Linked DNA regions of Homo sapiens: region 2 is reported to be linked to region 1. The links are microRNA targets in miRTarBase. Many come from high-throughput screens and were not tested one by one. Region 1 holds a microRNA gene; the other region holds the end of a gene's coding sequence. Distances are from middle to middle.

The links. Region 1 holds the annotated microRNA hsa-miR-6823-5p (UCAGGGUUGGUAGGGGUUGCU, at 1,358-1,378, opposite strand). A microRNA usually pairs through its seed, bases 2 to 8, with sites in the 3' UTR of a target mRNA and lowers its output. Matches are read on the target gene's strand: a 7mer-m8 pairs with bases 2 to 8, a 7mer-A1 pairs with bases 2 to 7 and ends in A, and an 8mer does both.
Region 2: the mRNA of CHDH is a reported target of hsa-miR-6823-5p. Seed matches in the 3' UTR shown: 8mer at 1,336-1,343.

What each region holds. Positions count from the first base shown.
Region 1 is chr3:48,548,639-48,552,704 of GRCh38, forward strand. MIR6823 (microRNA 6823) reads right to left here and starts at 1,383; the gene lies at 1,323-1,383. It overlaps PFKFB4 (6-phosphofructo-2-kinase/fructose-2,6-biphosphatase 4), which reads right to left. Exons shown (of 14, transcript NM_004567.4): 2 at 1,480-1,596; 3 at 1,226-1,322. RefSeq lists enhancers at 1,794-2,457, 2,458-3,119, 3,120-3,783, 3,784-4,066.
Region 2 is chr3:53,814,194-53,818,253 of GRCh38, reverse strand. It overlaps CHDH (choline dehydrogenase), which reads left to right. Exons shown (of 9, transcript NM_018397.5): 9 at 59-4,060. The coding sequence ends at 477. Among named protein-coding and RNA genes, the nearest start is that of CHDH, 30 kb to the left of the region's middle.

The DNA.
Region 1 (4,066 bases):
TCTGAGCCTCAGTTTCCTCATCTGTAAAAGTAGGGGGTGACAATGGGCATCAAGAACCCAGCACACGGTAGGTTCAGACATTAGTCCTCTACTTTTTATCTGGCTCAATATAACCAGAGGGTCCAGCCTTGATTTTTACCCACAATTTGGCCATAGAAACCTGAATATCAGGCTCCCCTTCCCTTCTTGGTGCCACAGCCTGGCCCAGCCACACCGATGCAAGAACAAAGGCAGTCTCCAGTCTGAAGGTCCAAGCCCCACAGCAGGGAGTTCCTGCCCCCTGGTGGCCAGAGAAGGAACGGGTAGCCTAGTGTGGACCCCAGTGGCAGCCTGGTAGCCACTGGGCTTGATTTGGGGAAGTCACTAGAGCTGGGTCAACCTCTGCTCACTGCCCTATCCTGATGGCTGGGCCAAGAGCAAGTCTCTGCCACCCTAGGTTGATAAGGGGCTTCTCAAGACCACAGCTAACACCTCCTGAGAAAAGCACAGCATGGCTGCTCAGACCACCAGCTGGTGCTCAGTTCCTTGAAGAAAGGACTCAGTTCAAGTCTGAAAGTTGTTGAGGGTGGGGCGGTAGCATATACATATTTCTATCTCCAGAGTAACAGCAGAAGTGTGAACGACTCACCCAGCAGCATCTAGGAGATGTCAATGCAAAGCCAATCGCACCAGCAATCACACACCAAGAACATGCTCCAAATACACAGGAGAGAGCTTATCCTGGGGCAAGGGAGGAAGCCCCCCACCCCCAGCTCCATCCCTAAGGCCTGTATGCCTGCACTCACTCAGGTTCCCTTCCCCAGCAGCAGCCATCCCCACGGGGCGCTGGGGTGAGCGAGCGTGACCTCCAGGCAGCAGCTCCAACGACCTGCATGGGCTGAGCCCCTCTTACCTCCCTGAAGCTCTGTCCTTCCCAAGGGTTCCTTAACCCCAGGGCAGGAATGGCCCAGCCACCAGGAGGCCACACAACACACCCTCTCCTCTCATCCCCAAACCCATCACCTCCCACCCCCACCACATCCTGAGAGATCCAGAGACCAGCCTTGTCACACAGCCCTGTCACACAGCCATCAGGGCTGGGCAAGGCCAGGGCTCAGGAGTAGCTCAGTCATTCACCAGCAGCTCCACTCCAGGGGCTTCTCAGTAAATGGTCAGTAATGTGTTAGCTTTCTCCACACTGGGTCCCCCAGCAACCTCTCCCCCCACACCCAACACATATACTTACTTCCTGATTTTCAGGCCCTCTTCATTGTCGGGGAGAAAAAATTCAAAAGATTTGTAGGTCTTGACCACGTCCCGGCGATACTGGCCAACATTGAACTCTGGAGGGAAGGAGAGGCTCAGCTTTCACAGCAACAGCAACCCCTACCAACCCTGACCTTGACCCAACCCCAGGCCAAATAATAGAGAATAGGCCTTCTCTATTCTCTTCGTCATGCCCCACAAAGCTCCCCTTAGACAGCTGGGGCCAAGCCTCACCCCGAGTGGGCACACCAATCCAGTTCAGGTATCGAGTCAGCTTCTTGGAGATGTAGGTCTTGCCCCTGGCGGGCAGGCCCACCATGACAATGAGAGTTGGGCAGTTGGTCATGCACACTAAAAGGCAAGCAGCACAGTGTCAGATGAGGGCTGGGACCCTCCCAGCGCACCCCTCCCTCTCAGCCTGTGGTCTCTCAGCCTCAGGGCATGGGACTGGCATCAGACGTATCTTCTTGGCTTCCTAGCATCCCCACACAGCTCCTGGAGTGGCCCCAGATGCTGGTTTCAAGCCACCGTTGGCATGTCCCCCTTCCCCAGGCCCGCCTGGGCTCTGGCAGACACAGTGGGATCTCTCCAGCCCTTTTCATCCTGATGTGCACCACCAGGCATAAAGTCAACCGAACTTGCCACTGGCTAAACATGGCTAGGGGGGTCCCCACCGCATGAAGGACAGGACCAAAACCCAGCAGGGTAATCAACACCCTGCCTCTGTCATCCAGGAATCCATACCCTAACCTTTTTACATCTCTCCCACCCCATCCATCACTCAGTGCTCCCAGAACACATAGCCCCACTGCATGCCCTCCCTGTGGTGAACTTCTTTTCATCATACAAAGCCCAGCTAAAAAGTCACTTCCTCAATGAGTCCTTTCCCCAAGGCATCTCCATGGCCACCGGGAACACCCCTCACCCTCAATCCTGGTCACCTCACTAATGACACTCTTCTCTCTAGACTGATCACTTACAGCAGAAGAAGCCCTGTGGTATCTGAGCCCTTTAGGGCCCTGGGGCCTGGCACAGCGCTGGTGCTCAGGAACTGTGGGCAGGATCAGGGAGGGAGGCATCTAGAAGTCTCTCAGGGTAAGGACCACAAGGGGTTGAGACCAGAGACCCAGACTGATGCCCACAAGGACAGTCCCTCTGATAGCCCACCCACCACCATCCATGTGCCACAGGTCAGTGTGCCAGCCAGAGAAGATGCCAGGCTAGAGGCACGGAAGGATCTGAATACAGCCCCCTATATTCCCAGCTGGCTAGAACAGATACCAAGGCAGCAGAACTGCCAGCTTCATCTTATGGGACCTAGCTCACTTTTCTTTTTTTTTTTTTTTTTTTGAGACGGAGTCTCACTCTGTTGCCCAGGCTGGAGGGCAGTGGTGCGATCTTGGCTCACTGCAACCTCTGCCTCCCAGGTTCAAGCGATTCTCCTGCCTCAGCCTCCCAAGTATCTAGGATTACAGACACCTGCCACCACACCTGGCTAATTTTTGTATTTTCAGTAGAGACGGGGTTTCGGCATGTTGGTCAGGCTGGTCTCAAAACTCCTGACCTCAGGTGATCCGACTGCCTGGGCCTCCCAAAGTGCTGGGATTACAGGTGTGAGCCATCACCTCCAGCCTTCTTTTTTTTTTTTTTTTTTTTTTTTTTTTTTTTTGAGAGGGAGTCTCGCTCTGTCGCCCTTGCCCAGGCTGGAGTGCTGGAGGACACTGGTACCCAGCTCACTGCAACCTCTGCCTCCCGGGCTCAAGCAATTCTCGTGCCTCAGCCTCTCAAGTAGCTGGGATTACAAGCACATGCCACCACACCTGGCTAATTTTTGTATTTTCAGTAGAGACAGGATTTCATTATGTTAGTCAGGCTGGTCTCGAATTCCTGACCTCAGGTGATCTGCCTGCCTCGTCCTCCCAAAGTGCTGGGATTACAGGCGTGAGCCCAGCCCTCAGCTCAGTTTCCAGTGCCATCAAACGCGGTCTCACGTCAGAAGCCTCAGGAAGCTTCCTTTTCCTCATCCTTAGGACCTGGGTCAGGTAAAACCATAGCAGACAGGCAGATGAACAGATGTGGGGACCTGTCACTGCCCCTCTTCTTGGTTCTGCAAGTGCCTTCACCTGGTTGCCTAGACAGACTGTCCCCACCAACAAGTTGTTTCCCTCAGAGCACAGAGGCCCCAGAAGCACTTCCGCAGGGGATCAGGAGTCAGGCCTGGGTTGCCATCTTGAGTCTGACACTCATTGGGAACTCTGAGCCTCGGTGTCCCCAGCTGTAAAATGGGGCAGTCATCCCTCAGAGAAGCCTAGTGCTATCCAAGAGCCTGGGCACTTCTGGGAAGCTGTGCCCTCTGTCCTACCCTGGCGGATACTGAGCTAAAGCCATAGGTGTACCTCGGCACCGACTGCCCTTGGGACTCAGGGCATGGAGGCGGTGGCCTGGCCCCAGGCAGGCCCTGCAGAGAAACAAAGGGCCTTGCTTGCCAGTGGGGGCTCCATCACTCCTGTGCATTCCCCTTGTTTAAAGGTGACCCAAATGGTGAGCCTCAGGGGCGGGAAGGAGGAGACCCCATGAAACAGGCTGACTGAGTGAGAGTGGAGAAACTTGCAGAGAACTCTCAGTATTAGCTAAGGTGAGAGGAAAACAAGTTAGGCAAGGCCTTGCCTCCTCAGGGCCGGTGGACAGCTGAGGCCCGCATTGTGCATTGTTTGCATAGTTCCCGGCCAGGTGGCCGGGCTCTCAAGCAACCAAGGGCAGTGCGACAGCTGCTAAGCAGGAGGAAATCCTGCATCTACCCTGCTCCCGCTGATGGGGCCAC
Region 2 (4,060 bases), 5.3 Mb from region 1:
CCAGTGAGGCCAGCACGGGCAAAAGGAGGGGTCCTCACCTGTTTCTTCTCCTCGACAGAAACTGATATTGAGGATTTCCGTCTGTGTGTGAAGCTCACCAGAGAAATTTTTGCACAGGAAGCCCTGGCTCCGTTCCGAGGGAAAGAGCTCCAGCCAGGAAGCCACATTCAGTCAGATAAAGAGATAGATGCCTTTGTGCGGGCAAAAGCCGACAGCGCCTACCACCCCTCGTGCACCTGTAAGATGGGCCAGCCCTCCGATCCCACTGCCGTGGTGGATCCGCAGACAAGGGTCCTCGGGGTGGAAAACCTCAGGGTCGTCGATGCCTCCATCATGCCTAGCATGGTCAGCGGCAACCTGAACGCCCCCACAATCATGATCGCAGAGAAGGCAGCTGACATTATCAAGGGGCAGCCTGCACTCTGGGACAAAGATGTCCCTGTCTACAAGCCCAGGACGCTGGCCACCCAGCGCTAAGACAGTTGCTGCTGGAGGATGACCAGGGAAGCCCCCTGATAAGCCAAGAGGGCCAGCACAGCCCTTGCTCCCAGGCTCCTGCCTGAAACTATCTAGCACACTAGGACCCAGGTGGTACCCTACTCAGTGGCTGAGAATTGGATAAAGTCTTGGGAAATGAGACAAGTACTGGGCAGTGAATCCAGCTCCTTTTCCCCAGCCTTTCCCTGTGGGCCATTTGGGGAAGGCCAGCATTCAGCCTGAGATGTTCCTCCCTGCCTCCTGGAGGGACAGAAGGGGAGGATGGTTAACTCCTGCCGCATCCTTTTTCTTGTGTTCACGTGGCATTCTCTAACCCAGGGCAGTGGTTCCTTCCCAGGCCATGCACAGAGGCTGGGTGCCTGCCAGACCCACGGAGGGTTCGCGAAGGAAGGGGCATCCTCCTTCTTGAGCTGCAAGCTTTAGCTGAGGCAGTAAGTCACACAGTAGTTAGTTCAGCCTGGGCTGGCACATAAGTCCCCAGTGTCCCTGTTGAGAGGGGAAAGTTGCCTGCTGGTTGAAAAACTGGCTTTTCCTTTCTCGCTGCCTAATTTCACTCTCAGAGTGAGGCAGGTAACTGGGGCTCCACTGGGTCACTCTGAGAGGGTTGTGGCTCTGGTTCTTATTAAACCAGGGCCAGGTGCAGGGCTCACACCTGTAATCCCAGCACTTTGGGAAGGTCACTTGAGCTCAGGAGTTCAAGACCAGCCTGGGCAACATAGTGAGACCTTGTCTCTGGAAAACAATTAGCTGGGCATGGTGGTACACACCTGTAGTCCCAGCTACTTGGGAGGCTGAGGCGGGAGGATGGCTTTAGCCCAGGAGGTTGAGGCTCCTGTGAACCCTGATGGCACCACTGCACTCCAGCCTGGGTGACAGGGTGAGACCCTGTCTCAAAAAAAAAAAAAAAAAAAAAAACCTGAGATTTTTTTGGACCTTATTCAAGGGGAGAGGAGTCTGGAGGGAATGCCGCTTGGCTTCACTACCAAAGGTTTTATGACTTAGCATTTTAAAAGGTTTTCCTTTTACCAAGAAATGCAGAAACCAAGAGCAAACCCCACGTACCAGATCACTGATTCCTACTGAAGCAGCTAGCCCGAGAAAGGACTCTCTCATACTGGTCTTGGGAAATGACTTGGCAGCCTGAGCCATCCCAGCAGTGGACAAGGATGGTTAATTCTTATTCTGTAGACGTCCACAGGAACAGACTAGGATGGAAAACACAGTTAAGCACAGCCATGCACCCTGTGGCTGTAGAAATGCCCCTGTGTGAAAGAAAAATAAATTCAAGACTGGAGTTTTGGAGGAAAAAAAATACAAGTAGCATTTACAACAGCTCTTTGCTCTTTAAATTTCTTACCATTCAATAAAGTGATCCAGTCACTCACATTTGAACTGAGATGCCTTCTCCAGACTGTTCTGACAAGGTAATGAAAATAAAATGCACTTGGATTTTTCCAGACATCCACATCCACCGTCAAGGGCTGGGAAGAAAAGCATTGTTGCGTGGAAACCTGCAGCTATACTAGGCCCAGAATAAGGACGGGAGGAAATTGGGGGATTCCAGGCTTTGCTCGGATCTGAGAGGATTGGGGCGGCTTACAGACTGGGGCGGGGGGGGGGGGCGTCCGACAGCCACAAGTTAGTTTTCTGAGAAAAACCTTCGAGAGAGGCAGCAGGAAGAAACCCATCACACCTCTCCTTTTAAAAATCTTAAGCAGCTCTTGTTTAATCTTACCTGTATTTTTTAAAATTTTTGTTCGAAGAGAGGGTCAAGAAAGAAAATTCTAAACCGGCCAAGAGACTTATTTCTCCTACGGAGGGTCCCCACCTGCCCCACAGCAGCAGTCCATGGCCATCAGTCACCTGGGTCTCGGGGCTGCCTGCAAGAGTGCAGAAACAGGAGTTCAGGTGCCAGCCCCGTAACTTGGAGGGCCTCGTGCAGCTTTCCTGCTGGAGCGTGTGTGGATTCAGGGGCAGGGGATAGTCCTGGACCAACCATGACTGTGCTGACCCTTCTTCTCTGGAACAGGTATGGATATGGCAGGGTGACAGTCACTTAGTTCTACCATCTCTGTGTCCCATGGGTGTGTCAGTGTCTGAGACCATGGTGGGTTCAGTCTGGTGGCTGTATTTTAAAATAAGCAAAACGTCATATGGTAAGAGGAGCCCATTGGTGATGCTGCTCAATTGCACCCAGGCCCTTCTTTCACTCTCAAATACTTAGCCATGTTCTACACAATCGCACAATTTGGCCATAAACAGGAATGAGGTTTAAAAGAAAAGATGGTAAGTGTCACATGTCCAGAACCTGAGCGTTCCCCTGCCATGAAGGGAGTCTTTCATTCACCCCAGGAGGAGAGGCTGTCACCTGAGGAAGCCAGCATGGGGGAGAAAGGCACTTGCTACAAAGTGGGGTGCACAGAGGGTACCCCCCCATCTTCAGTCTCATAGGGAATTGGGCCCCTTGGCCAAAAGCTTGCAGTACCTAAAAACAGAGAAACGTGCTTTGCAAAAATGGCTCAAAGAGCACAACAGAATGCGCTGTCCATGTGCCCAGTGCTCTCAGGAGCCCTGACCTATTGCAGAAGCCTGTGTTGAAGCCGCTGCACTAGTAGAAGGCAGCTCCTGATGGAATAGGGGATAGGGGTGGGCTGTGTGGGAGCCAAGAGCATCTGGCAGCCTGACTGGAGATGGTGAGTTCCTGAAGCAGGAGTTGTAGGCACCCAAACATCTAGTCTTTCTGCTTGTAGCGAAGGTTGCAGGCATCATCTCCACGAATTCAAATAGATTCTTCTTGGCTAGGCATGGTGGCTCACGCCTGTAATCCCAGCACTTTGCAAGGCTGAGGTGGGTGGATCACTTGAGGCCAGGAGTTTGAGACCAGCCTGGCCAACATGGTGAAACCCCGTCTCTACTAAAAATACAAAAATTAGCTGGGCATGGTGGTGCACGCCTGTAGTCCCAGCTACTTGGGAGGCCGATACAGGAGAATCGCTTGAACCTGGGTGGCGCAGGCTGCAGTGAGCCAAGATTGCACCACTGCACTCCACCCTGGGTGACAGAGTGAGACTGTCTCAAAAAAAAACAACAAAAAAACAGATTCTTCTCCACCCAACCATGTCCCGCCACTCAGAAGTGGTTTCATGCTTCTACTGATAAGCCAACTTAACATCAGATCCAATACAGATTTTTTAAAGATAAAATACCATCTCTACTGGACCTGTTTAGTGGCTCAGGCTGCCCTCACAGGACATCCCTGAGACCACCCTGTCACTCTTGATGTTGGAACCAGGGCCCAGGCCTGCTCCTCATTGTCTCCTGCCCTCCTAGTCCCCAGGAGAGGAAAAGAAATACTGTTTTAGAGAAATAACATTTTCAACAAAACATCCCTGGAGTCAGATTTTGAGTTGGGGTGGGCTAATCAGGGAGTCGGGGCTCTCTGCGTGATGTCAGTTCTATGGCTAACTGGTTTTTCTAAACCAGCCAGCTGCCTATCAAAACAGTACAACTTTTCTAGGAAATGCAATTGGCAAAGACACTTACGATGCTGAGAAGTACACAA